4 linked regions of the Homo sapiens genome follow. The protein of the gene in region 1 interacts with the protein of each later gene in a pairwise test. Each region holds a gene or a part of one and is shown in the gene's direction. Other genes may lie near its edges.

Region 1 (7,926 bases):
ACAGCGAGACTCCGTCTCAAAAAAAAAAAAAAAAAAAAAAAAAATCACATACCATGCAATGACAGTAAAAATCATCCCAAGTTTCATACCACTTGAACTAATGTGCTCTATTGTCACTTGGCTATGAAGAATACAAGTGCTAGGTTTCAGTATTGGCATCGTATTACCTTGTCTTTTAAAATCAGGTTGTGAAACTGGTATCTTTTTCAATTTGTTGCCAATCAGTTATGCGTTAATTGATTTGAATTCAGTTCCTTCTGTTGTGGTAGATTTGCTTCTGTATCGTATGATTTCAAGTTGCTCATTGCCTGAATTCAGGACAGGGTAGTGGGTGGCTTTCTGGGGCCATCTCAGGCGGGCTGAATTGACCTGAAGATGGCAATAAGAGAAAAAAGCCAAGTAAATATCAAGAACAATTTTTAGCATAAAATTCAGTGTTAAGATTCATTGAGAGCTAATCAATAGAAACGAAGGTTCTGTAAATACATCCATCTTATGGGAATAACTTAGGTCATAACCATTGTTGGCAAAGGAGGAAATTTTTCTTAGTTCCTCTGCACTTTCCCCAATGATATTAATGTTACACCTCTTTGATCGTACTTGAAATGATTGTAATAATAACGAGAGCCGTAAGAGTTTGTTGGTCATAAAAACATACAACATTTTAAGAACTTTATTGGGTTTTTATTGACATATATAACTATTAAATATAAGATTATAGACCCCAAATATCAAATTAACTTTAGCATTTACAATTTTCCTTTGTCTCCTCTAAGCAGCCACAATTTCCAATGTAGCACATAATGAGGTCATCATAGTTGCAAATCTATATCTTCATATTGTATAACTTGAGAACATTTTTAAACTCAGTGTATAGGTTTGTGTGGATGTTGTATCAATGTTCACAACACGAGGCAAGTGGAAATAAAGCAAAAATACTGTTAATGTGTAATAACATTGTGCTAACAGAATGGGCAATTTGTAACAATGCCATCAGTGACTCCACTATCTAGCACAACAGTTAATACATAGTGTGTAAGTTCACATTTCAGATAAGTGATAGTTATCATTTTAAGTACCAAAACTTAGGTTTAAAGAAGTTTCTGAGATATGCAGAATTCTACCTCTCACTGGGCTTTGAAAATATGTTACTCCTCAGGACTCACCGTGTCGTAAGCATCACTGATTATTGTTTATGTCTGTTCTAAATTGCAGAAACAGTTTCAGAAACCTAGGTTATTTGGTTTTTAGTCCTAATCTTGTTACTGTAAAAGTCACACGTGTTCATCCATTGTAGAAAGTTCTCCAAAGTGCAATCACATATAAAGAAGCAAATAAAAATCATCCTCAATCTCACTCTCCAGAAGTAATGATTATTAACAGTTTCATGATCTTCATCACACTGCATTAAGTTTCCCAGAGCTGCCATCACAAATTAGCACAAACTGTGTGACTTAAAACAACAGAAATTTATTCTCTTACAGTTCACGAGGCCAGGAATCTAAAATTAAGGCATCAGCAGGGTTGGGTCCTTCTGGAGGCTCTCAGAGAGTCTGTTCCATGCGTCTCTCCTGGTTTCTGGTGTTTGCCAGCAATCTTTGATTCATAGACACATCATTCCCATCTCTACCTCCGCCATCACATGGCCTTATTCTATGTGTGTGTCTTTCTGCATCCTCTCCTCTTTTTATAAGGACACCAGGTATTGGGTCTATAGCCCATCCTAATCCAGAATGACTTCGTCTCAGCTGATTAACATCTGCAAAGACTCTGTTTCTAAACAAATTCATATTGTGAGGTTCTGGGTGAACATGAATTTGTGGGGGACACTGGGGGACACTTATTCAACCCACTACACACACTGTAATATATATTTATAGAATCACGAAAACGGGACCATAATTTATATAAAGCTTAGTTCCCTTTACACTTAAGATACCATGAATTTCCCTAGGTCTTTCAAACACAGAATTTTAATTTTTTGTAGAGTGTTTCATCATATGAAGATTACATCATTTCCATAGCTAACCTGCTACTTCAAACACTCAGATGGTTTCCAGACTTTACTATTATAAATGGCTCTGATGAATATACATGTTCCCAAATCTTTGAATTTATCTCTGCTTATGTCCTTGGTATAAATTATTCTGAGTCGAATTATTGGATTAAGGGGTATGAACATTTTAAAGGCTCATGAAAAATCTTCTTTAATTGAATTCCAGAGATTGTATCAATTTGCCATCACCAGCAGAAGAGAGAACCCATGGCATTGCATTCTCTGCACTGCACGTTCTAGCTTTTTGAGTGTTGGACAAGTGACTAGGCAAAGAAATAACATCCTTACTTTGTGACTTGTATTTTTATGTAAGGTTGCCTCTTTGTTTACGGACCACTTATATATCTTTTTTAGGTTACCAATTTATGATTTGTGTCTCCTTTTCAATTTTTTTCTCCTCTCTCCAACTGCCAGTATTTATTTCTTACCATCTCACGGATGAGTATACTGTCCACCTCCACCCCTTTTAGAGTCCACTGTTAGCTAAGAAACTATGTAGATGTATCCTCCCTCTCCTTTTCCCATTCTCGAACCACCTCTGAATCTTGTACAAATGTCAATCATTGCCTCCATTGTGTCTTAACTGTTTACATTTCGCTTTCCCTTCTAAGACTTTGAGCACTTTGGGGCCATTTCCATGTCTTATCTGTGTTTTTGTATCTTCAGCAACTAACATGGATGCTCAATAAACATACATTGAACTGAGTTGTTACGTTGTGACCTGGAAATATTCACAATTCCTTGTATAGATAGAAATAGCTAAATAAGGGCACATAAGGATAGACTCTAAATGGCACTCAATAATGTGCATAGGGCTGGGCGTGGTGACTCCCTGCCTGTAATCACAGCACTTTGGGAGGTGGAGGTGGATCACCTGAGGTCAGGAGTTAGAGACCAGCCTGGGCAACATGGTGAAACTTCGTCTCAACCAAAAACACAAAAAATCAGCTGGGTGTGGTAGTGTATGTCTGTAATCCCAGCTATTTGGGAGGCTGCAGCACGAGAATTGCTTGAACACAGGAGGTGGAGGTTGCAGTGAGCTGAGATCGTATCATTGCACTCCAGCCTGGGCAACAGAGCAAGACTCTGTCTCAAAAAAAAAAGCATAGGATTTAATCCATGAATTTTGAATTTCTATGTTAAATTTTTAGAAATAGTAACTTTTTCTCCCATATTTCTCAGCTATATCTGAGATAACTGGGACTGAGCAACATTGTCTAGACAGGCAAAGTGTTAGCAATAATAAGTATAATAATAATTGTAATGTAATAATGGAATGAGGATGTTAAAGTACTGAGATCAGGATAAAAGTTACAATTGTCCAAATTTTAAATTTCCTATCATTTCCACTGAAATCACTGACTGTACTTATAACATTATCAGGAATTTATGCAATTTGTAGGTTTTGAAATAAATTACCATTCAGAATTCAACCGTGAAAAACAGTGTAACTCTACTTGAAAAACACTTTGAAAAACTCAAGTTTCCACCAAATCTAGAAGCACATGGGTCGTAAAACATAGTTCGAAAAGTTACGAGAGATGATGACTACAAGGAACTTTTTATAAAAATCTTTTATAAGCATTACTCTGTGGTCAAATTTATTTTCACATGGATATTAAAACAAGTTATTGCTACAAATGGGTTTCTGTTCTGATCCTTTTTTTGTTTGCCTCACATATCCTTTCTCTTCCACCACATTCTGCTTCACTCTCCCCGTCTCTCATCACAGACAAGAAAAATGCCACCTCCCATAGGACCCACTCCAAACCCTGTTTCCTGAATGATCAATGCCTTCCCCCATCGCAATCAAAAAAGCACTTTCTATTCTGTCTTCATGACACACTGGTTTTGACACTTGCATAGCTGTTAGTAATTCTGCAATGTGCTTGGGCTATTTGTGAGCACATGTATTTTTCCTTTATAGATTATAAACATCTAAAGAACAAGGTTAACCCAGGAGTCAAGTAAATAGTTAAATATTATTTTGACAATGGCTGTAATAGTGGACATTTGAAAGGAATACACCTCAGTATTTTGAAATTGAAATAATTTTCTAGATCCTGGCATTTCTGGACTTTCAACAGCCCACCCTTTTTAAAAATTGTGAAGACACTTTTACTATAAAGGTCTGCCCAGACCCTCTCTGATACACCTGTGTAAATGCCACGTGCATGTGAGCATGCGACAGTACGTGTGTGCACGCCTGTGCAGTGGTAATCAACCATGGTGCTAAGGTTTGAAAACAGAAAATACATCAATCGACCTCCAAGCTTCTTTCATCCCACTTCATAACATCTCAATCTCTTGAGTGCTGAGGCTTATTTTGTTTAAGATGATTTGGACTCTTCTGAGTGCAACGCAATCTCCTTCCAGCACAGCGGACCGAGGAGAGGTGAGGGGAGAGTTTTGAGGGTGGGCATATTGATCCTACGCTTGCTGAATTAAAAATGAGCCAACTGAGGACAATTTCCAGGTTGCAACACAGACGGAGCCGGAGTCTGGGTTGAGGTTAGAGGAGCCGTTAGGGCGCAGGGATGCAACAGGATTTGGGAGAAAGGGGAGAGAAAGCAAGGCCACTTCCAGGGGGCTTTCATTTTTTTTTTATCCTGGCAGCTTCCCGAGCCAGATTTCAAAAGCGATTTCAAACGTGAAGCCAACTGAAGCACTGCCTTACACTAATTGGAAGGGGAAGGGAGTGACTCATATTACACCAGCTCGCTCTTCCCTCTCGGCAACTGCTAACTTGTAGCTTTAAAAGGAAGTGACATGGGTGGGGAGAGACGTCAGCTGAGGACCACTTTTTTTTTTTTTTTCTTCCTGAAGGGTCCACCCCATGGGTGGAGTCTCGCTTTTTCTTTCCAGTGTTGGCTGACTTACAGCTCTTATAAACTAGTGGCAATTTCTGAACCCAGCCGGCTCCATCTCAGCTTCTGGTTTCTAAGTCCATGTGCCAAAGGCTGCCAGGAAGGAGGTATGTGGTCCTGGTGCCGTTCGCAGGCACCTTCCCCGCTGGGTGTGGCTGATGTTTGCATTCCTCTTCCCAGCATATTTTTCTCTCCTGGGCTGGATTTCCTTAGGACCTCTGGAAGGGGTAGGCTCCGGGGGCGGGGGGGGAGTGCAAGGCGGGCGGGGGAAAGGTGCAGGGGGCGCCTGGAGGGAGGCGAAGAGAGGCTCTGCTGGTACAAAAGGACCCTCGCTTTGTGCTGGGCCGGGTGAGCGTCCCTTTCTGGGCTGTGATTTCAAGCTGCTGTTCCTGGCTTCATTTACCCACCCACCCAGCCCCCTCCCGGGGCTAAAGCATTTTCTCTGCTATAGACGAAGCTGGGCGGGGGGTGGTGGTGGGGGGAATGTTCCTATTACATATTGCTCTCTTTTGTGTCATGCAACATGTTCTTCCGTCGCTGACGTTTCTATGGCAACCACAAAAATACTACACAATATGCAGCCCCGATATACATTGATTTATTTGTATTTTGTGTCTAGTTTGCAGCTTTCTGCTCTGCTTCTTGCTTTGGTTTGCTAAAATCCAGCATGGCTTGTGGCTACCCCTCCTCACTTTCATTTTGGTTTTTCCCTATCACAGGAGGGGTGGGGGAGGGGAGTTGTCAAGGAAACAGGCATTGGTAATTACCTCTCTATTTACCTAATTTTCGGCCTATGAATTTCTCCATATCGAGGAATTAAAAAAAGAATGCTTTGATGTTTATGTAAGTCTTCAGTGTCTGGTCTTTTTTTAGAAAACCTAAACACTTCTTAAGATAAGATATTGATCCTGTGGTCAAGCTAAGGGGGAATTAATTCCTTACAGGAGGTGAGATCATTGAAATAAAGTTTTAGAGAGCATTGGAGAATTCGCACTGATAAATGTGATATTGCCTGCCCAGGTTTGCCTAAAAGCTTAAATATTTAAAAGATGGGTCTTTGCTCTCATCTGCACTTATTTAGCTCCAAATCTTAAGTTCAACAAGTATGAGTAACAAATTAACTGCCGGGCAGGATTCTCCGTTTTTCGTTTTCGTGCATTGTTCTTAGATGGATTAGCCACGCTATTCACTCTCTTCAAGGTGAGGGTTGCTAGACTTTTTCAAAACTGTGGAAGGATTAACTCATCTGTGATTAGTCAACGACTCTCAGTTGGAAAAAAAGTATCTTGAGAGAAGGGAGAATGTGTGTGTTTGTGTGTGTGTGTGTGTGTGTGTGTGTTTAGGGAAATGGGAGGCGGGCAGGGAGAACAGGGCACATCTTGAGTTCTACGTTAAAAGGATTCCATCTTCTGAATATTCTCTATGGGGAGAAAAACTGTTATTCAGAAAAAATATGAAATGAGAAAATTATTATCTACTTAGTAATAAGCAAAGTTAATTATAATTAGAATCAAATAACACATCTCTTAGAAAGACATAGCCTCTTAACAGGTACCGGCTAAACTGATGCTTTTATTCAGTACGTCTAAGGAAGCGTTTGATAAGGGATACCATTCTTCTGATGGGCATCCCAAATAATTAGCTTTTATAAAATAGATAAGTAGTAATCCCATTCATGACTCTTAAAATTATCTATAATTTAAGATAAACATGTGTGAAGGTCACTTAGCCCTCATACCTTCCGGCTGCTAAAGCCAAAATCATTACTTATAAACCTTGAGCAACCCTGCCATGTGGAAGCAGGAAGAATGGGTGGTTTCAGTGAGGTTCTGTTTGCTGTGATCCTTATCTAAATATGCTATCATCTATGTCTTATCAAATCTGCTATAAATCCAGAGGTCCTAAGTAATTCAGGTAGAAAAGTTACCTGAAAATGGGGCAAAATAGCATGGCACAAAACAAACCAGAGCCACATGGAGTTAAAGACGAGAACTATTTAAAGGGCATAACACACAGAAAAGTATTACTAAAAAGAATATGACACTCATTTTGAAAAGCACATGTTAGTACACAGAGAAACGGTTGGATTGTGAGCATCTGATGTTTGCAAAGAATTCTGAAAAGCAGCCAGGCTGAAATTACTGTTTTTCCTGTCTGAAAATGGTCCTCAAGGGCAGATTTGCCACATGACCTTCCAAAGCAGATTGACAGCATGTAAATCAAAGTCTGCGATGTCGGTTCTCTTGAGTTTCCAGATTCAAAATTTCACAGCAAAAAGCCTAATGGAATAGAACTGAAAGGAAAAAGAGCAAGACTTCCTCAGAAGCACAGCCAAAACAAAAACAACAAAAAACCCAAACCCAATAAACAAACAAAACACTGTCTGATATTCAGATGCTGAGTAGAGGTTAAAGCAGTTAGCAGCTTTGGCCTAGGGAAGGTAAGTGGAGCTGTGAGTATAAAGTAAACGTAGGGTCCCATGGAAGAGGCTGACAGAGGTGACACCCAGAGGGTGAGTCAGCCGTCATTTTATTGGGATTTTACTGTCTGCAAGGCTCTGCTGTGAAGTTGGTGAAGAAGGCAGCAGTTGTAGTCTGTGCTCTCAAGCTTAAAATCCACCAAACGGGTGGCGAAAAGAAGAGCAGAGCACCCAGCTGGAAGGAAGGGGGAGGCAACAGCCAGTCAAGGAGACGCAATTAGTATGAGAAGAATACTAGAGAGTCTTCATCCTGCTGCTGAAGCTTTATAGGAGAGGAGGCAGACGGTTCAAGGGAAGAAGGAGAGGGTGTCTTAGATAGCAAAGGTGGATGGTAAGAAATGGATCATGGTTCAGGGTTCTTAACTCCAAGAAGGGAGAAGTCAGTCTTTAGTATAGAAGTAGAGCAGGTATACTCTGTGCTGGTTGAAAGCATAAGTAGATGTAAATTGGGGACAGAAGTTTTTCTTAATCAGAAAAAGAAGGACTGTTAGAAGACTGAACAGAAGGCAGAATCCTTCCTAATC
Region 2 (7,636 bases), on another chromosome or scaffold:
CGTGCAGGTTTGTTACATATGTATACATGTGCCATGTTGGTGTGCTGCACCCATTAACTCGTCATTTAACATTAGGTATATCTCCTAATGCTATCCCTCCCCCCTCCCCCCACCCCACAACAGGAAGGGGAACATCACACACCGGGGCCTGTTTTTAAGCTTTCATATGTGGGATCAGAGCATACTTGACACTAAGGCTAGTTTGGCTCCACTACTGAGGCAATCCTCCTCTGAGCACTTAGTCTGATGCACTGTATCTTATGAAGTCTCTTCTCTCTGACTACTGGGAAACTGAGCTATTCCCAGTCTTGTGTGAGCTCTACAAATCACTCCTCCTACTCCTTTTGAGTGGTTCTATCCCAACCTTGCATACTTTACATGCATGTGCTGATCAGTATTCAGCCTTGAGGGAAATCTTTTACAGAGTTCCGGAGTACTCTTTCTGTGCAGTGCCCCTCTGGCACCTTGCTCTGCAAATTCTGCCCACCCTCACCTCCTTGAATTCTGAACTTTGTCTCCTAAATTTAGGCGGACTTCCAGGCTCAGCCTGGATTCTTTCTTCCTGCACAGAGGACTGGAAATTCTCTCTAGGTAGTAAACGGAGGCAATTGTAGGGCTCACCTCATTTGTTTCTCTTTTCTTGAAGATCACTGTGCTGTACTGTCTATTTTCCAATGTCTAACAACTATTATTTTATGTATGTTGTCCACTTTTTTAGTTGTTTAAGATAAAAGGGTAAATCCTGTCTCTTATTCTTTCATGGCCAGAAGCAGAGTCCAGCTTTCAATTTTTTTAATATTTGGGTCAGATTAGTTTTGGGTTTTTAAAAATAACACTCAGATAGAAAGTAGATGGCATCAAAGGTCATAGACTGACAGGATCCTTAGAGACTACCTAACATCCAACCCCTAGCCCCACCACACACACACACATTCATTTGGTGGATTACAGAAGTGAGATCAGAGAGAGGAAGGGGATCTTCCCAAAGTTACATGCAAGTTAGCCACAGAATTAGGGCTAGAATTCAAGTCTTCTGCTCTCTAGTTTTAATCCATCAAGTTATTTTCTGCTGATTTTCTCTTCCAAATTAGTTTATTTGGATAGACATAGCTTTGAAATCCAGAACTTCTGTACTGCCCAAACCCACAGAATGTGCAATATTAGCTCACACCCAGGTGGTACTTGATTTTGTTTCAGTTTTGCAAACACAGCTTCTAGGAGTTGGCCTGAAGTGAATTCCAGAGTAACACATAACACTGAAAAATGTAAAACACCCCCATGGGTAGGCACTCCAGAACAAAACCATATATTTTTCCCCATCGACTTATTATGAACTCGCTAAGCAAAAAGGAGTGTGACTTAGAACTTAGATTGACTGATTTAGTCTTTTTACCACCTATGGGAACCATGTGTCTGTCCTACAAAAAGAAACCATTACCACTGCAAATGCACTTGTCTTTTCACAATTCTAGCAACTCCTAGTCCCCTTTCACCTAGATTCAAAAATTTTATCTGAGCTGGGTCTGGGAGCCCTTCTGTCTTGTCTCTGCACTCTTCCTTGATGTAGCCTAGGAAATGCCCCTGCTTTGGAGTTAGAGTAGGCTTTAACTCTCAGCTCCAAAACTTATTTGCTGTGTGACCTTGGATAAGTTACTTAACCCCTCTGTAAAGACAGGGATGATACTGTCTTACATTGATTCTAAAGCACATTTTTTTTCACATTCTAGCATCTTTGAAATCAAGATGTATCTTGTTAGCCATGGTATGATGGTTAAATGTTCAGCATTTTTCCATTTCCTAGTGGTATGTACTGTGTCATGCTTTCAGAAAATACGGTATTGTTTCCTAACTTGCAGAGCTTCCTCAAGGATTTAATACAAGACAGCAAGCATAAAGTAGGCACTCAAGGACTCTTGCACCGTTTATTACTAGAATGAATGACTAGAACTAATACTTGGCTGAGTCTTGGGTTTCCCAACTTCCCTCATCTAGCTATTGGTACAGCAATTGGGGCAATTAGTCTGACAAGGTGAACAAGCCTGAGGCCGGCACACTACTGACCAGTGTTGCAACGTGTGATTGTCAATGGGACCTTGGGCCCTTTCTTGTTGGTAGCTTCTTGCCCTCTAGTCCTGGTCCATTAATATCATCAGCTTGATCGTGCCTCTGCTGCTACTGAATTATGAAGGTAGGGAAAAGGACTAGGTGACTTCTTAAGCCATCATCCCAAAGTCTCCCTGTTTCATCCCAAAGACTCTCCCCAGAATGTAATGAGGCTTGTCAGTTGAAGGGCTCCTTCAAGGCTATCAGAATCAGAGCCTGCAGGGCTGGAAGCCAAATCCACATTCCCCAAAGCTCCACCACATACTTCCAGTTGGGGAACTGATATTTGGATGTCTTTGAAATCCAAGAATACCTACTCTGCTCACATCTGGAGGGAAAGAGAAGACACCGGAGGATTAACCACCCTCAAACATCTCCCTATACAGAAAAATAGCTGGTATTTATTTCCTAGCACTTCTCTGGCTTTTTTCCTATCTCCGGCTGGCAGGCTTGTCTCAGTTGCAGAGGCCTCATCCCACCCAACCCCTTCCACTCCCTATTATCCCCCTTCGTGCCCAAAAGTGCAGCTGCAGACTCCATGAGCCCATCCCTCTGAGGCACCAATCTTTAACATGTGTCTAGAGGGTCCCCTGCTGGAACCTAGCAGTCTCGGGCATGGTCACAACCACAATAAAAATAGGAAAGGTCAAGAAAGACTGGCCTTTGTCTCTGGCCACTTCTAGCAGCTTCACTGCCTCCCAAGTGATTGTAAAATCATTGAGTCTGAACAAACTACCGCTTGACAGTGCATGCCACCCAGGATTCTGTACCATGGCCAGCACGAAGCTAGGAATTAATAATAACTGTGAGTGATTATCACGGAAACTGTCTCTAGGAAAAATGACCAGGTTTTTACCATTCAACCTTGGGGAGATAAAATCAGGCATAGCAGAAAAAGGACAAATGATCTAAGAGCAAATGCAGGACTCCAGATCCAAAGAGCATTCTTGAGGCCCGATTATACACCTGTCTCATCTCCCTGTCTCAGAGGCAGGTGACGAGAAGGGGAGGAGGTATCTCCATCCAGCCCATCAACCAACTCCAAACCCTGTGCTCATTCTAGACCCTCCCCAACACCTCCTTGCCCTTATTCCCTGTCAATTTGCCTCTCTGTAGGTCTCTGCTTGCCCCGCTCTGTTGGACCTGTCAAGACCCTCTTTGTCTCCTGCCACAGCCTCCCTTCAGCTTTCTCCATCCAACACCAGCCCTGATTTTAGAATATCGCCCTACCTAAAACCCACCAATGAACAAGAATGGCAAATTATTTACCCTTGTGAAGGCTGGGTAATAGGAACATGGAGGATTATTTTATTATTCTCATTACGTTTGTGTATGCTTGAAGTCTTTCATAATAAAACGACTCTCCGACGACCTCCAGGGATCTCAGGGTAAAGTCCGAAGTCTGCAGACTGGCATTCAAGACCCCTCAGGATTTGTCTCTACCCAGTTTAACCAGCTAACCTCCTGGCACTCACCATGCTGCAGCCTGTTTTCCCAGCCTTTGGAACTCAAGTCTCTCTTGCAGCCCTAGTTTTACCCCATGCATCTTCTTTTTACAGAACACATTTCCCCTTGTGCCCTGCCTAGAAAACACCTCCTAATCCCTTGGAAATCTAATGCAAATGATCCCTGGTCTGGGTCACCTTCCCTACCTTCTGGGGGCAGGGAAGAGGGGGCCTCCTCAGTCCTGATATACAACAAATACCCAGTATGTGTTTAGGAGAGACCAGAATGTCTTGGCTAATAGAACGTGTGCAATATTTACTTGAACTTAGGCAAGTAGGGTAATCTTTCTTGGCTTCTGCTTCTGTCTCTATAAAATGAAGATAATAGCGGTACTTATCTCACAAGGCTGGGGTAAAGATTCAGCGGTATTCTCTGTGTAAACAGTTTAACACAGTACCTGGCAGAGAGAGGGGGAGAAAGAGGGAGAGAGGGAGAGATGCTGACTGACTTACAGACAGACATACTTCAATCAAAGAATATAGTGGGTAATTATGTGGCTTGTCTTAAATGAAATGCTTCCAAATCCCACAGGGAAAGCACTGCCGCTTAGCTCTTCCTGGGAGCTAGAGAAATTCGTGGAAAATCGTTGACATTAAAGTCACGATTCCTTTCTCGGGCTCAGGGGCTATTCATACTTTGGAGGGTTTTCAGAAGTCGAGGGGAGTCCCGGGCCCTCCTATTTGGAAGAATCGGAAGGATAGTGCAGGGTCTGTGCCTGGGAGCTGGCCCGAAATCAGGGGGCTAGGAAGGCACGGGGTTTGCACGAAAATCAGCCCCGGTGACAATCCCCAGTCTGTGAGCTCTCGGTGGACTCGGGGCCCCAGGGGTGGGAACCCGGAGTGAGAAAATCTGAGTGGGGTCTGGTGCACGGCCCCCCACCTGCCAGCCCCGCTCCCTGGGCTGCGGCGGCCTCGTGCGTCACGGGCGCAGGCGGGGGCCGAGGGGAGGGCGGCACCGCAAGGTGAGGGCACCGCGCTGCCTTAAGACGCCGCGCGCCCCCGCTGCCTCTCAGAGCTTGCAGCGCGGCGCGCTGGCCGGACGTGCGGGCACAGACGCTGTGCCCCGCTCCTGCCGCGCCCGCAGCGCCCGCTGCCCCGTGCCAGCTCGCAGCCGCCCGAGCCCCGAGAGGCGGCCGGGACGAGCGCGAGGAGCCCCGAAGGACCTGCACGCGGCGCCCGCGACGCCACGTCTGCAGCAGCAACAGGTAAGCAGCCCGGCCCTACTCCGGGCTCCGTGGCCCCCAGCACCCGGCAGGGCCCCGAGCCTGGGAGCCCACGACGCCCCCTCTGAAGCGTCCCGACGGCTGCTGAGCTACCAGGCGCGGTGGCCCGCGGTGCGGCCCCTTCTCGCCTTTCCCTAGCCATCCTCCCGCCCTCGCGTTTTCTCTCTCACTTTTTCTCGTGCGTTCTTTTCCCCCTTCCTCTCCATTCTCTCGTTTTTTCCTCATCCTTTCCCTCTTCCTCTGCTTGTTCTCTTTTCTTATTATTTTTTGCTTTTTCTGTCTGCGTCTCTCCCAGTCTGTCTTGCTCTCTCATTCTCTCTCACTCTCACGCTCCCATTTCTTCTTTTTTCTTTCTTTCTCCCTCTCTGTTGCTCACATTCTCTCTGTCTCTCTGTATGTATCTCATTCTTTCGCTGTCTCTCATTTCCTTTTTGTCTCTCTGCCTCTCAGTCTCTCTCGCCCTGCCTTTCTGACTCTCTCCACCACCCTGCACCCCTGCCTCTTTTGCCTTTCTCCCCAGCTCCTTTCCCACTCCCCTCGGCTGTCACCGACACCAAGCAGATCCGGAGAAAGCAAAGAGGATGCCAAATTGGGAATGGGGATGGGGCTGTGGAGGGTGAGGGTAGGGGAGCTCAATAGGCATCCTCTCTGCATTTTCCAGTCTCCATTGCACTGCTGATAAACTAAGGGTTTTTTAACCAAAGCCCGCGGTGGCCGGGGCGGCAGGTGGTTTCCACGGCAAAATAAAGTCCACAGGGAGACAGAGATCCAAAGAGACAGAGATCCAGCCAGAGAAAAACCAAGGTGAGGGGCCATGGGAAAAAGATGTAGAGAAATAGAGATGCGCACACACTCAAAGATACAAAGCAAGTGTTTAGCCAGAGTCCTGGGGTGACAGGAAAGTGAAGGACAGAGAAACCAACGAGAGAGTGCACACACTAAAGAGATAGCTTGAGAGACAGGTGAGACAAGCAGTAGAGTGTTAGAGATCAATGGAGAGAGAGGCAGAGTAATGCAGAGAGAACTTAGGCAGGGAGAGACAGAAACCACACGGAGAGACACAGAGACAAGAGGGTCCGAGAAAGACAGAGCAAGCGCACACGTGCCAGTGAGAGACAGAAGGAGACACCCAGAGAACCCGAGGGAGACGCAGAAACAAGAGAGTTGGAGAGACACGGAGACGGGCAGAGACACAGCGAACGACATTGAACAGGTGCGCTAGGGACCCACAAAGATGAACTGCTGGGGAAATAGACTGAGAGAGAAATGGAGAGACAAGAGAGCACTAGGGAAAGACGGAGACACACATGAACTAGCGAGCGACACAGTGACAGGCAGAGACACAGAGAGACAGAATGGATCAGAAAGAGACTGAGGGAGAGACGGGCAAGACTGTGAGAAAGATAGGGAGCGAGAGCGCAAGCCCTGCAGAGAAAGTGCGCTAGCGAAAGAGACACACACAGAGAGACTGAGTGACAAACAGAGTGGAAGAGATAAATGAGAGTAACAGGAAAGAGACAGCGTGCACGTGCTATCGAGAGACGGAGAAACAGAGACAGACATAAGTGAGAGACAAGGATGAGAAAGAATCAGGAAACGGTGAGACACATACAGACACACAACCCGAGAGATAAAGAAAAAAAGTGCGCTAGCGAGAGACACTGGAGAAGAGACAGAAACTGACGGTCGTAAACAGACAGAAACAGAGAGCGCACGCGCATGCGCTAGCGCTAGCGACCAAAACTCCCCGGAGCCAGAGACAGTGTGAGAGACAAGCAGAGAAAGCGCACGCACGCACGCGCCAGCAGGAGAAACAGATGAGAGGAAATCAGAGCCCTGGAGAGAGACAGGCAGACAGATCTGGAGAGTCCGGAAAGGAGCCATAGAAGCTGCCCGCACTGGGGATGGAGCCGTGCGGAAACCCGGGGTAGGGGGTCCTGCAGCGTCCTTGCTGGGCGCGGAGGCTTCTCCCCTTGACGGGTGACTAACTCTGCCTGCGTGTTTCTTTTGTCACCAGCATAGGCACTGAGTGCGGTCTGTGCACCCCTTTGCCACCCACCGGTGCCGGCACTGAGCCTGCAACCTGTCTCACGCCCTCTGGCTGTTGCCATGACGTCCACCTGCACCAACAGCACGCGCGAGAGTAACAGCAGCCACACGTGCATGCCCCTCTCCAAAATGCCCATCAGCCTGGCCCACGGCATCATCCGCTCAACCGTGCTGGTTATCTTCCTCGCCGCCTCTTTCGTCGGCAACATAGTGCTGGCGCTAGTGTTGCAGCGCAAGCCGCAGCTGCTGCAGGTGACCAACCGTTTTATCTTTAACCTCCTCGTCACCGACCTGCTGCAGATTTCGCTCGTGGCCCCCTGGGTGGTGGCCACCTCTGTGCCTCTCTTCTGGCCCCTCAACAGCCACTTCTGCACGGCCCTGGTTAGCCTCACCCACCTGTTCGCCTTCGCCAGCGTCAACACCATTGTCGTGGTGTCAGTGGATCGCTACTTGTCCATCATCCACCCTCTCTCCTACCCGTCCAAGATGACCCAGCGCCGCGGTTACCTGCTCCTCTATGGCACCTGGATTGTGGCCATCCTGCAGAGCACTCCTCCACTCTACGGCTGGGGCCAGGCTGCCTTTGATGAGCGCAATGCTCTCTGCTCCATGATCTGGGGGGCCAGCCCCAGCTACACTATTCTCAGCGTGGTGTCCTTCATCGTCATTCCACTGATTGTCATGATTGCCTGCTACTCCGTGGTGTTCTGTGCAGCCCGGAGGCAGCATGCTCTGCTGTACAATGTCAAGAGACAC
Region 3 (7,023 bases), on another chromosome or scaffold:
TACTGATTTGTCCACAACCTTATGGATGGTACTTCAATGGGAGAATAATCTCAAAGCTCCCCATGGTGGCATTACAGTAACTAGAATGGCAATTCTGGTGTTCTGTGATGAAAAGAGATTCCAAATATGTGATTTCAGAGAAATTGGGATATTTTTGCAAAACATGAGAATCCTTGTAGAGTTAATAGGCACTATTCTACCCCAACTTAAGCTAGAAACAAATTTCCCCTTTAAGATGATAACAGGGGACAAAATCCATTCTGCTTCCCCTCCCGAGTTGCTGTTGAGTCACAGATGTGCTGAGGAACTGCCCTTTCCTCTTCTGGAGAAGTTTCTCAGTGGATGATCGTGATTCAAGTGTTTTCAAGACCAAATGCAAAAATAGAAATGGCATTTTCTGTGTAGATTTCAGGGATCTGGTGTCCAATGTCAACACTGCAGAAAAAAAGAGAACTAAAAGGCAAAAAAAGGGCCGGGTGCGGTGGCTCACACCTGTAATCCCAGCACTTTGGGAGGCCAAGGCGGGCGGATCACGAGGTCAGGAGATCAAGACCATCCTGGCTAACACGGTGAAACCTCGTCTCTACTAAAAAATACAAAAAATTAGCCGGGCGTCGTGGCGCATGCCTGTAGTCCCAGCTACTCGTGAGGCTGAGGCAGGAGAATTGCTTGAACCCAGAAGGCAGAGGTTGCAGTGAGCCAAGGTTGCGCCACTGCACTCCAGTCTGGGTGACAGAGTGAGACTCCATCTCAAAAAAAAAAAAAAAAAGTCAAAAAGAGAAAGGAAGTTTTCTAAGTGAATCAGGAGACATGTTATGGAAAAGTAGAATTTGTCCCATCTTTCTTTCTTTCTTTCTTTTTTTTCTGAGACAGTGTCTCGCTGTGTTGCCTAGGCTGGAGTGCTGTGGCGTGCTCACTGCATCGCTGCAGCCTCAAACTCCTGGGCTCAAGCGATCCTTCCACCTCAGCTTCCTCAGTAGCTGTGACCACAGGCATACACCACGACACCTAGCTATTTTAAATTTTTTCTTGTAGAAACAGGGTCTCACTGTATCGCCCAGGCTGGTCTCCAACTCCTGGGCTCAAGAAATCCTCCCACCTCGGCCTATCAGTGCTGGGATTACAGGCATGAGCCACCGTGCCCGGCCCCCAGATCTTTTTTTTTTTTTCAGGGACTGTGGCAAAGTTACATTTGCCCTAAATCTATCTCTCTCATACCTTACTGACTAAGAGGGATAATTTAAACTACATGTTTTGTAAAATTTCATTCACAATCAACATGGATGATTGAAAGCAAGGATAACAGAATGGTAGGTGTTATGGAAATATACAATGAATTAATAGAAGACTTATGCCAGAGAGTTCCTTATATCCTGATTGGGAGGATGAGATGCATATGTACTAAACAGAGAACATTCAAAATTAATGACATGGTTTAGTTGTGAAAGAGCTAAAGTAGGGCAAAGTTATGTGAATGGTGGGAAGCCAGGAGAGAGAGGTTCTTACTAAGAACTAGATTAAGAAGCATCTTGAAGGCTTTGAGGAGAAGATGAAGTAGGGGAGCTGATTCTGGGAGTTTTCTTAGGTAAAAGCATAATGACTAAACTGTTATTTCCTAGATCAAAGATTGTGTCCGTAAAAAAAAATTGAACTATGAGAAAAATTGAGCCAGGTGTGGTGGTGGATACCTGTAGTCCCATCTCCTTGATCATTTTAGCCCAGGAGTTTCAAGCCAGCCTAGGCAACAGAGCAAGACCTCATCTTCATTTTTTTTTTTTTTTTTTTTTTTTGGAGACAAGATCTCACTCTGTTAACCAGGCTGGAGTACAGTGGTGCAATCATAGCTCACTGCAGCCTCGAAAGCAATTCTCCCACCTCAGCCTCCCAAGTAGCTTAATAATTTTTAAAATTATTTTTAATTTTTTTTAGAGACAGGGTCTCCCTATGTTGCCCAGGCTATCTTGAACTCCTGGGCTCAAGCAATCCTCCTGCCTCAGCCTCCCGAAGTGTTGGGGTTACACGTGTGGGCCACCGTGCCCAACAAAACCTTGCCTCTTAAAAAAAAAAAGCAAGTGTCTTATATGTTTCTGAATCTTTAGTGTTTAACAGAATGCCTGCTAAGGAATACTTACTCAAATGATTGTTGAATTTAACCGACTCTAGGACAAAAATATGAATAGGAAACATTTATCTGCAGGGCTGCTGGGAACCTGGCTTGAAAATCTTTAAGCTAGGAGTAGTTTTATCAACCTGGACAATTAGGTTGGCCCATTTTAATCTTTTAACATCATCCTTGTCCTAACCTAATCAGGCTTTTGTTCTCCATGTACTTGGCTAAGGAAACCTGTTGGCAGCATATTAATTTAGATTTCACCATGAACGTGGAGTTCCCCCCAAAGTCGAAAGAGGGTGCGGAGGACAGCAAAGTTCATTTATTAATGATACCAGAGCTACTGTTAATAGCTGTGTTTATTAAACACTTAGTATATGCCAGGTACTCATCCAATTACCTAACATACCTGAACTTATTTGTCATTCACAGTAACTCATTTGGTAGACACTTTATTACCTCTTCCTCCAGATAGGAAATAAAGGCTCAAAGGGGTAAGCAACTTTGCTGAAGGTCACACAACTAAAAAATATTGGAGCTAGGATTCAAACCCAGAGCTTGTCTGCATCCTGAATCAAGCTTGTAAGCATTATTCTTCACTATTTCTATTTTTATCTCCTAAAGGAGTATTTTCTTTTAGAATCTGGACAGAGGTCCTTATTCATTTTTATAGATGAATGAATACTTATTGTATAGCAATTAATTTTGTGTTCCCAGTGAGGAAGACTCCCAGTATAGCAGGGGAGCTGGGCTGTCAGCTGGGAGTGGAAGAAAGTAATATTCCCGGTGCAATTGCAGGAAGACTTGGGTGAGCCTGAGGGGCATCTGGCCAGCACAGACCATGCTCGCATTCATTCCTGCACATGCACACCTTTCCTTTATGGACCAGTGTTCTTCCCAGCCGTGTTAGAGGTACCCACAGAGTTCCTGGCCATTTAGGTACTTTATACCAGTCACGTATCTAGGTATGTAACCAGAATCTGTGTCTTGAAGGCATTAAAAGGAAAACCTTAAACAAATTAAATTTAACAGTGTTTAATTGAGCAAAGAACAATTTGTGAATCAGGCAGCCTCTTGAACCAGAACTGATTCAGAGTTTCTGGGGCAGCCTCATGGTCGAAGAAGATTTATGGGCAGAAAAAGGCAAGTGACATACAGGAAATAGAAGCAAGGTACAGAAACAGCTTGATTAGTTACAGCTCTACATTTTCCTTATTTGAACAAGGGTTGGACAGTTGGCTGCCTTTGATTGGCTGAAACTCAGTGAATGGTACAAAAGTAGGTTACAGTCTATTTACACATCCAGTTAGGTTACGTTTCACTACATATGGAGAAATCTTTAAGTGGAATTTAAAATATGTAAGGAGGCAGCTTTCAGCTAAACTTAACAAAGGTGAAAAAGCTGGCCAGAGAGCTGTAATAATAAAATTAAAAAGTATATAATGTCAGACCATTTTGTTTTCAGCACAATTTATGTTTTTGGGGGATCTTGGTATATTTGCTACAGAACAATACTGGATGCTGATCTAGCTACTAGACCACTATCTCCCAACTAACATGATTTTTTAAAATAGTATTTATTGAGCTCTTACTAAATCCCAATTTTTTTTTTTTTTTTTTTTTTGAGACAGAGTCTTGCTCTGTCGCCCAGGCTGGAGTGGAGTGGGGCAATCTCGGCTCACTGCAACCTCTCCCTCCCAGATTCAAGTGATTCTTCTGCCTCAGCCTCCTGAGTAGCAGGGATTACAGGCGCGAGCTACCACGCTCAGCTAATTTTTGTATTTTTAGTGAAGACAGGGTTTCACCATGTTGGCCAGGCTAGTCTCGAACTCCTGACCTCAAGTGATCTGCCCGCCTTGGCCTCCCAAAGTGCTGGGATTATAGGTGTGAGCCACCGCGCCCAGCCTAAATGCCAATTCCTGAGCTATAAGCTCTTTACATATATTATTTTATTCAATCTTCCCAACAATCTTAAGACAGTACTTATTATAATTACCTGTACGTTAAAAATGGGGAAATTGAGTCACAGAGCTGGTAGCTAATTTTCCTAGGGTCACACCACTGATAACTGAGATGACTCCATAGCCAGAACACTTAGCCATTTCTCATTTCTAATTGGTAACCAAGACAGGAGGAGGCTGATATATATTGCATGGTGGGGCAGTTGGCCATGGAGGAAGACAACCCTGAGACTGGAGTCCAGAAAGACCACGGATGTCTGATACTGAAAAAATTGGGGGAAAAAATTTTAAGGGTTTCTGTCAACAGAGAGGTGTGGCTATGGGTATAACTGTACTGAAATGGCTCTGGACTGACTTGGAAAAATTTCAAGTATAAAAGATCTCACACCCATGTGGTCTATACCACTTTAGAAGATTTTGCATTTTAGTCTCTAATATGATGTATTAGCTTCTAATCCCAAAAATGTCTACTGGATGTTGACCAGAGGGAGGGAGTGTGAAAACTGCTTCTTGAGTTTGTACTTCAATTAAAAAATACAAATACACTCACACAAAACATAGAGGGATTACGATTTGGTTCATTCAGGATGAAAATGTGATTAAAACCCTCATTGTTCTCAAATAAAATTCTGGGACAGAAGCCAGCTAGGAGGTATTTCAAAACAAACACATCTTGGTGAGTAGGGAAAGGCTATATGCCCAGCAATGTAATAATAATAAGTAGCTGCCATTTACTGAGCATACATTGCTAGGTGATGGTAGAGCCTAGATTCCCACCAAGGTCACTAAAATCTGAAGCAACTGGGCTTAACTAAAATGCTCCTCAGTCTGGAGTGCAAGGTGGCCGGGACCAGGGATCCTGTTGGACACTTCCTGACTCCAGGAACCAGAGAGCTAAAGGAGTAATTTGGTTGAATCTGCTACTGTCAGGGCGATAATACATTCCCTCAAAGAGCAGAGTTACGCAGAATGACTGACTAGCAGGAGATGCTTAGAGTGGAGGAAAGAAAGTAGGAACCCGGCAGGTAAGAAACTATGTCCAAGAGACACACCAGACAGCCATTTTAAACAGTCACAGTTAAAAACACCCTGTACCGGCCGGGTGCGGTGGCTCACGCCTGTAATCCCAGCACTTTGGGAGGCCAAGGTGGGTGGATCACTTGAGGTCAGGAGCTCGGGACCAGCCTGGCCAACATGGTGAAACCCCATCTCTACTAAAAATACAAAAATTAGCCAGATGTGGTGGCAGATTCCTGTAGTCCCAGCTCCTTCGAAGGCTGAGGCACGAGAATTGCTTGAACCCAGGAGATGGAGGTTGCAGTGAGCCAAGTTGCACTACTGCTTACTCCAGGACTCTGTCTCAAAACAACAACAAACAAACAAACAAACACAAAACACCACTGTACCCAAACCAAATAACCTTCTCAAGAGCGGCCAGCACCATATATACACTTTTCTGAGTTAAATCAGCTTATTGAAGTGGGGTAGAGGTGTGGGGCATCTTGGCTGGGGCTTCTCAAGTTGCCAGGCTACTGAGGTTTTCTGTCTTTTTGATGGGTAATCCAGCAGCACAGCTGCCTTCAAAGAAATGCCTCAGGAATGTCTGTTGTTGTTTTGTTGTTATTGTAGGAGAGGGAGATGGATCTAGAAAAGCAGGCACATGCAAATGATCCCAGGAGTATATCCCAAACTACAGAAAATAAGAGCCATTCAGGAACCCAGGGGGCTAGAAACTGTTTCTTTCCAATGTTTAACTCCCCGCTGAGCATACAGAGCATGGAGGACCATGCCTTCTTTCCCCTTCCAGAACGCGTCTACAGAGCAGGCCCCCAGATCCCTTCTCCCTGGAGATCTGGAAATGGCAAACTGCAGGCTCCTCTCTGCTGCAGGAGTGGGAGCAGCTGGACATAGGATTCAGAATTATTCCACATTTTAACAAACACTCACCGAGCACATTATATTCTAGGCCTTGTCCTGAGCACTGGTGAATTTTATTTCTAGGAGGCAAAATAATCCCTCAAGTCTATTTTAAGCTGTTTTATTTATAGAATGAGTGAAGTTTGAGCTGAAAAGCTCTATTGATCACATCTCATCCCTCATCTTTGTCACAGTCACATGTCTTCCCATTGGTTTGCTCCCTGCTTTAAATATCCTCAGCATTAGCAGTGACATCACTTCTGGGGAGAAGGTTTCACAATGTCTGAAGGTGGACCAGGCAACCTCACACTGAACTGCACATTGCAAAAGCAGATTACTCAGAAAGAGTACCACTGCTGCAGAATTATTACTTTTCTCATCTGTCTCCACGTTTTAAAGGTGCTTGTTTGTACATTTAGGAAATGCACAAATACTTCAGTGCTTTTTAAGAGTACAGTTCTGCAGAGAGTGTTTAGTAAGCAGCTGATAAAGACAGGTCAGGTTGACTTAAGGTGGTATTTGGACCCTGATATTGAAAGCAGAAAGTTTAGAGTGAATTTTTCCATGATTTGCATCGGCATGCCATAGACTGGGAGGAACCACTGATTAGAAAAAGATGGGCTTTAGAGATAGTCTTAAGTTTGCAAACCGCTTCCCTATTTACAATCTTTGTAATCTTGAGCAAGCTAATTATCAGTTTACTTAGCTGTGCAATGGAAGTTTCTTGTGGAGTATTTAAACAAAGCTGGCCAGGTGGGGTGGCACATACTTGTAATTCCAGCACTTTGGGAGGCTGAGGTGGGAGGATCACTTGGATCCAGGAGTTCAAGACCAGCCTGGGCAACACAGTGGGACCCTGCCTCTACAAAATATTTAAAAATTAGTCGGGTGGGGTGGCACACGCCTGTGGTCCCAGCACTAGGGAGGCTGAGGTGGGAGGATTGCTTGAGCTTGGGAGGCAGAGGTTGCAGTGAGCTGTGATTGTGCACTCCAGCCTGGGTGACAGAGTGAGACCTTGTCTCAAAAAAAAAAGTA
Region 4 (7,023 bases), on another chromosome or scaffold:
ACATACCCACATGATTTGCAGTTCAGTGTTGCTGGAATAGACTTGCAGGGGTGAGGGGTCACAGTTAGAGAAAGAGAAGGTAGAGCTTATCATGGTAGTCCCATTGATTCATATTAGTGAAGGAATTCTGTATCCATTTTGAGCATCCCTTGGCCCCTCTAGGCCTCAGTCTCCTTGTCTCCACTTTGTAGGGCTGCAGTCAGGATGAAGAAGTGGGTTTGAGGGGAGCACCTGACCCAGGTTGTGACCTACTCAGTCACAACTACTTAGAGTTGCTATTCACCTATTACTGATTGAAAAATGATTCAGAATGAGTGTGACTCTGGGCAAATGCCTTTCAAGACCCCACCTTCCTGACCTATAACATAACATAGGGGGAGTAAGGAGGGTGGAGCTGGATAATCCTTGAGTTTTTCCGTAGCTTAGATCTAGAATGAATCTGATTTCTAGGAAAAAATGTTCTAACAGAGAGTTCATTATTTACACAGCTCACTTACCACCAACCTTCCTTTGTTTGTTTTGCAGGAGGACTTTCTGCCACTGGAACATCTAGGTGAGGTCTCTGCTTCTTGTGCTGCCAACATTTTCATGATTTATTTATATGCACGAGACTTGTTTATGTTTTTTTTTAAATTTCAATGGATTTCCTAGTAGCATTTTTACGTTCTTACAAAATAAAAAAGTAGATATAAGTGAATGTCACTTTCACTTATATTTGTGAACGATATTCACTGTCTCTACTTAAACACAATACATGTTATTGGCTATCTATGTTAATTTATCTACTTCCTTAAATGTGTTCCAGCAGAGACTTGACCACTAATGTCTTAATGGCATTACCTTTCATAGGGCTACAGTGCATTCATTTCCTTCTTCCTCATTCTTCCACTCATTTGGGAAATTATTATTGAATGCTGGCAATGTTCAATTCACAATATTAACTGCAGAAGGAAATGAAATTGGAAAAAAATCCACTTTACTTGAAGAGCTCGCATGGCATCTTGCAGGAAAGGTAGATTATTGTAATATGAGGTGTAAAACTGAAAGGGACCTTTTAAAAAAGACAAGGTTTAAGTTCTGTAAGAATGCAGAGGTCTTTGTGTATCAGTGTTTAATCATTTACATCTTCAAAAATAACATTTAAAATTAGTCAAATATGAGTTTTTGCCTTTCAAAGAGGCCCTGAGGCTGCTGGCCCTCTGGCCTTGCCTTGGCTGTCCTGTTTTGTAATGCTTCCCTGGGCTTCACCTTGTGCCATAAGTCTTCTGATACTTTATTAATAAATGGTGCTGGGAAAACTGGCTAACCATATGTAGAAAGCTGAAACTGGATCCCTTCCTTACACCTTATACAAAAATTAATTCAAGATGGATTAAAGACTTAAATGTTAGACCTAAAACCATAAAAACCCTAGAAGAAAACCTAGGCAATACCATTCAGGACATAGGCATGGGCAAGGACTTCGTGTCTAAAACACCAAAAGCAATGGCAACAAAAGCCAAAATTGACAAATGGGATCTAATTAAACTAAAGAGCTTCTGCACAGCAAAAGAAATTACCATCAGAGTGAACAGGCAACCCACAAAATGGGAGAAAATTTTCGCAACCTACTCATCTGACAAACGGCTAATATCCGGAATCTACGATGAACTCAAACAAATTTACAAGAAAAAAACAAACAACCCCATCAAAAAGTGGGCAAAGGATATGAACAGACACTTCTCAAAAGAAGACATTTATGCAGCCAAAAAACACATGAAAAAATGCTCATCATCACTGGCCATCAGAGAAATGCAAATCAAAACCACAATGAGATACCATCTCACACCAGTTAGAATGGCGATCATTAAAAAGTCAGGAAACAACAGGTGCTGGAGAAGATGTGGAGAAATAGGAACACTTTTACACTGTTGGTGGGACTGTAAACTAGTTCAACCATTGTGGAAGTCAGTGTGGCGATTCCTCAGGGATCTAGAAGTAGAAATACCATTTGACCCAGCCATCCCATTACTGAGTATATACCCAAAGGATTATAAATCATCCTGCTATAAAGACACATGCATACATATGTTTATTGTGGCACTATTCACAATAGCAAAGACTTGGAACCAACCCAAATGTCCAACAACAATAGACTGGATTAAGAAAATGTGGCACATATACACCATGGAATACTATGCAGCTGTAAAAAATGATGAGTTCATGTCCTTTGTAGGAACATGGATGAAACTGGAAACCATCATTCTCAGCAAACTATCGCAAGAACAAAAAACCAAACACCGCATGTTCTCACTCATAGGTGGGAATTGAATAATGAGAACACATGGACACAGGAAGGGGAACATCACACTCTGGGGACTGTTTTGGGGTGGGGGGAGGGGAGAGGGATAGCATTAGGAGATATACCTAATTCTAAATGACGAGTTAATGGGTGCAGGACACCAGCATGGCACATATATACATATGTAACAAACCTGCACATTGTGCAGATGTACCCTAAAACTTAAAGTATAATAATAATAAAATTAAAAAAAAAGACCCAAGCAGAAGCAGACACAATATTTTTACTTGAATCATGCTGGACTGGAGGACTTCCAGAATATTGATTTCCCTGAAATTCTGTGTAACCCACAGATACTTTTTAATCCATTCTCTCCCCCTCTGTCACAGTCACAGTCCTAGTGAGTGTCAGGAGCCTTCCTCGTCCAGGCCTTCCAGGATAGACCCTCAAGAGCCCACTCACTCTAAACCACTAGCCCCAATGGAGCTGGAGCCAATGTACAGCAATGGTGAGGACTCCCTAGGGGGCAGAAGGCTCTAGGGAGGAGCCAGGGAGGGAAGAGGGATTGAGCGACAGCCCATGGCCCTGTCACAAATTTAAAAATGACATTCCTAGCATTACACTGGGAATAGAAGTTGGTTATGAATTTGGTGATTGGGAAGTAGAGTCTAGAATATGAGCTCTTGACTGCAACCAACTATGATATCTTCTCTCACAGTAAATCCTGGAGATAGCAACCCGATTTATTCCCAGATCTGGAGCATCCAGCATACAAAAGAAAACTCAGGTAAGATGCCTTTCAGGCAAATAGAGGTGAGGTGGCAGTGTTTTATTGAAACGGGCAAGGGGTCTTTGATCAGAGTTATTTCAAATACAAGCCCAACACGCAAGGCATTACTTGCCTCCCATAGTGTCAGCTGTAGAATCTATCCATTTCTTCTTACCTTTACATACTGCCACCATGATCCCATAAATTCTTTGAGGACAGACACTGTGACTTTTTCACTAATGTATTCACAGCATTTAGCTCAATGCTTGGAAAACTGTAGGCCCCCTAAAATATTGTTTGAATTAATGAGTGAATAATCAAATGTGGAGACAATTGTCATTCTTTTAACTGGTCTCTTTATTTCTACTACTGTTCTCCTCCAGCCTTCCCAAAATCTATTTCCAGCATGATCCCTTTGAGGTGCTCTATTGTTCACATCAGTGCCTAGATTAACTGCCCTCAATGACACCCATTCCAAAGCATGATCTTTGCCTTCTGCACGCTGGCTCCTCCTGCAAGCTTTGCCTAATGTTCTTCCTCTAGCCATACTGAACTCTTGGCACCTTTATGCTTGGTGCTCATGTTTCTTACTGGTCTTGAAATGTCCTTTCCTCTAGTCTACTTGGTGACCCCTACTCATATTTCAAGACATAGATCAGGTAACAGTGAAACTCACACTGATGCCAACTACCCTTTCCATATTCTAATCTGGGAGGAGACATTTATTCTTTATGGTAACAACATAGTTCAATATGTATTTCTGTCTTGGTGCCCATAATGCTTGTTGCATTTATTTCTATGTCCATTTCTCCCCTTCAAAATTATAGGATTCTTGATCACATGAACTGAGTTTCTGTCATTTTTTTTTTTTTTTTTTTTTTTTTTTTTTGTGAGATGGGGTCTCGTTCTGTCGCCCAGGCTGGAGTGCAGCAGTGCGATCTTGGCTCATTTCAACTTCTGCCTCCTGGGTTCAAGGGATTCTCCTGCCTTAGCTTCCTAAGTAGCCGGGATTACAGGCATGCATCACCATGCCCAGCTAAATTTTGTATTTTTAGTAGAGACAGGGTTTCACTATGTTGTCCAGGAGTTTCTGTCATTTCTATCTCCTTATACCTTACCTAATGCCTAATAGAAGGCATTGCTTATTGGCTGCACAAATAAATAAAAGAGATACAAACAGCCCCTTGGAAAGGTAGAAAACATACACACACACTAAATTTTCTCAATGCTCCAATGCAACTCTTTGGCTTCCTGGGAAATTGTCATGTGGCCTTAGAATGCCAATCTCCTCTCTGGTCTCTTCCAATTTCCCTGTGCAAGTGAAGTGACTCATATCTGCCTCCTTCTCCCAGAGGATCAATACAGCCATAGAAGTCTGCAGTGGATTGGGGGTGGGTGCCCCTCTGGGGTTATAATGAGCAGAGGAGCAAGAAGGAAATTGTCATGAAAATAGTTCTGGGCATTTGGTGGGCAGAGGAAAGTCTTTATTAGTGTTTGTGCTTGGGGCAGTACTTTTTCTATTTGGGTTTGGAAGAATCCAACAGAGGAAACAGTCAAGAGATCAAGCAAATCAAGAAGATTGGCTTGGAGTACTTTTTCTATGTGGGTTTGGAAGAATCCAGCAGAGGAAACAGCAAGAGATCAAGCAAATCAAGAAGATTGGTTTGGAATGCAGTGTGCGTACGTTGTAAGTTGGAATATATTGCCCACAGTTTAATACTTTTCTTTGCTACTCCTACCCAACAGCTAATTGTCCAATGATGCATCAAGAGCATGAGGTGAGTCACATTTCTTGGCTTTCTTTCCTCTCTGGCCTTCCTCTCCTGTATTTAGGTACTTACCTTTTGTGTTTTTTTCTACCAGGAACTTACAGTCCTCTATTCAGAACTGAAGAAGACACACCCAGACGACTCTGCAGGGGAGGCTAGCAGCAGAGGCAGGGCCCATGAAGAAGATGATGAAGAAAACTATGAGAATGTACCACGTGTATTACTGGCCTCAGACCACTAGCCCCTTACCCAGAGTGGCCCACAGGAAACAGCCTGCACCATTTTTTTTTCTGTTCTCTCCAACCACACATCATCCATCTCTCCAGACTCTGCCTCCTACGAGGCTGGGCTGCAGGGTATGTGAGGCTGAGCAAAAGGTCTGCAAATCTCCCCTGTGCCTGATCTGTGTGTTCCCCAGGAAGAGAGCAGGCAGCCTCTGAGCAAGCACTGTGTTATTTTCACAGTGGAGACACGTGGCAAGGCAGGAGGGCCCTCAGCTCCTAGGGCTGTCGAATAGAGGAGGAGAGAGAAATGGTCTAGCCAGGGTTACAAGGGCACAATCATGACCATTTGATCCAAGTGTGATCGAAAGCTGTTAATGTGCTCTCTGTATAAACAATTTGCTCCAAATATTTTGTTTCCCTTTTTTGTGTGGCTGGTAGTGGCATTGCTGATGTTTTGGTGTATATGCTGTATCCTTGCTACCATATTGGGAACAGCCAAAAGAAGTTATAGAACAAGAATTTAAGGTGACTCTATCTGAAGTGTATTTTTGTACTTACAGGGTGACATTCCCAACCAAATTACCCTAGTTATGATGAAAAATAACTTCAGCATTTCATTAAAGACTCTGCTAGTTTAATATGTGACTTGTATCCCCACTGCAAAGACCTTATGTGTGAAGAATCACATTAATTGTAATTTTTGCTTCATGACATAGTCTCATCATTTGCCATACATGATAGATTTCTAGTCAGTCAGTTTTATTCTTATAAGCACCCATTAACCCCGAGACAATAACCTACTATATCTATGTGGCTTCTCCCATTCTCTTCCTCTACCTCACTCCATCTGATAAAAAACCATTCTAAATCTCATGTTCATTATTCCCATGCTCTCCTATTTCTATCATATTAATGTATCTACATGTTTTCCTTAAATATGTTTTTATATTAGTTTTAACTATAAGTTAAAGACCATATTGTTGTAGATAATTTTTTTTAGTACTTTCTCTTCATGTTGTATTTCTAAGATTCATCCATATTGTTGCGTGTTGCTATAGTTCATTTGTTTTTATTGCTGTTTAGTATTTACTTGTGTAAAATATCTGGCTTAATGTTTTCCTAGCTATCACCATCAAAAACTCTTTCCACAGTGTGTTGAATTTTTAATATGACAAAAATGAAAATGTACCAACAATTTTCAGTGACTTCACCTCCATTCTGAAATCCTGATGTTTCCAAATATCTCTGAACACCTCAAGTCCTAGGGACAACTGAGATTATATTAACATTAATCTCTGAATGTTGCCAATTCTAGGCCTTCACTTGGTTCATGTAGGAACACCAAGTCCCTTTCAAAGCACCACATCTTCCTCTAATCAATATTTCTTGGAGTCCCTAGGGAATGTCTTACATGCATTCAAACAATCACCATTTCTGGAGATACACTACAGGGTCACCATAAACTCTGCTACCCTTAGGTTCCATCACTATGGAAGCTGAGTTTCACCAGAAGGCACTTTTGTCCTCCATTACGACCAGCAAAGCCAGCTAAGCCACAGCTGCTGGCCTCAAAAAATGTGATGATCAATCCACACTGCTCCCACTGGCCTCTGTTACCCTTATCCTGGCCTTTGAGTGCAGGGCATGATGTCCTGCCCGTACTGAGATGCTGATCTCTGCCAGTTCATGTTCATATTGGCATTAAAATTTTAAGGTCCCTTGAAGAGGGAGGAGGCAAATGTCTCTGTCTTCTATGTGATACATTCTGCTGTTTTTTTCTCTATGGTGAAAATATGTAAACCGGTTTTGGGTACCAACCACCAGGCTGTATATGGAGGCTCTCCTCCTTTCTAACCCTGCTGCTGATTTGGAATTACCTTGCCAAGCCCCTTTGTGCCTTATAGTGAACTTTCTCTAAGGGACCTGTCATCTCTTATCATTGTTTATCCATTTTCTAGATTCTGAACCCAAGAAAGAACA

Evidence for each region.
Region 2: the proteins of AGPAT4 (region 1) and GPR101 interact in binary tests that used the Homo sapiens proteins (3 or more experiments, as listed by UniProt).
Region 3: the proteins of AGPAT4 (region 1) and SLC7A8 interact in binary tests that used the Homo sapiens proteins (3 or more experiments, as listed by UniProt).
Region 4: the proteins of AGPAT4 (region 1) and FCRL3 interact in binary tests that used the Homo sapiens proteins (3 or more experiments, as listed by UniProt).

The regions. Positions count from the first base shown.
Region 1 is NC_000006.12:161,271,042-161,278,967, reverse strand, and holds the start of AGPAT4 (1-acyl-sn-glycerol-3-phosphate acyltransferase delta), read left to right. Parts: upstream 1-4,906; 5' UTR 4,907-5,030; intron 5,031-7,926. UniProt on the Homo sapiens protein: Converts 1-acyl-sn-glycerol-3-phosphate (lysophosphatidic acid or LPA) into 1,2-diacyl-sn-glycerol-3-phosphate (phosphatidic acid or PA) by incorporating an acyl moiety at the sn-2 position of the glycerol backbone.
Region 2 is NC_000023.11:137,030,979-137,038,614, reverse strand, and holds the start of GPR101 (probable G-protein coupled receptor 101), read left to right. Parts: upstream 1-4,619; 5' UTR 4,620-4,813; intron 4,814-6,848; 5' UTR 6,849-6,940; coding exon 6,941-7,636. UniProt on the Homo sapiens protein: Orphan receptor.
Region 3 is NC_000014.9:23,173,653-23,180,675, reverse strand, and holds part of SLC7A8 (large neutral amino acids transporter small subunit 2), read left to right. Parts: intron 1-7,023. UniProt on the Homo sapiens protein: Associates with SLC3A2 to form a functional heterodimeric complex that translocates small and large neutral amino acids with broad specificity and a stoichiometry of 1:1.
Region 4 is NC_000001.11:157,676,747-157,683,769, reverse strand, and holds part of FCRL3 (Fc receptor-like protein 3 isoform 1 precursor), read left to right. Parts: intron 1-525; coding exon 526-553; intron 554-2,670; coding exon 2,671-2,789; intron 2,790-2,999; coding exon 3,000-3,068; intron 3,069-4,796; coding exon 4,797-4,828; intron 4,829-4,913; coding exon 4,914-5,060; 3' UTR 5,061-7,001; coding exon of another isoform or gene 7,002-7,023. UniProt on the Homo sapiens protein: Promotes TLR9-induced B-cell proliferation, activation and survival but inhibits antibody production and suppresses plasma cell differentiation. Enhances activation of NF-kappa-B and MAPK signaling pathways in TLR9 stimulated B-cells.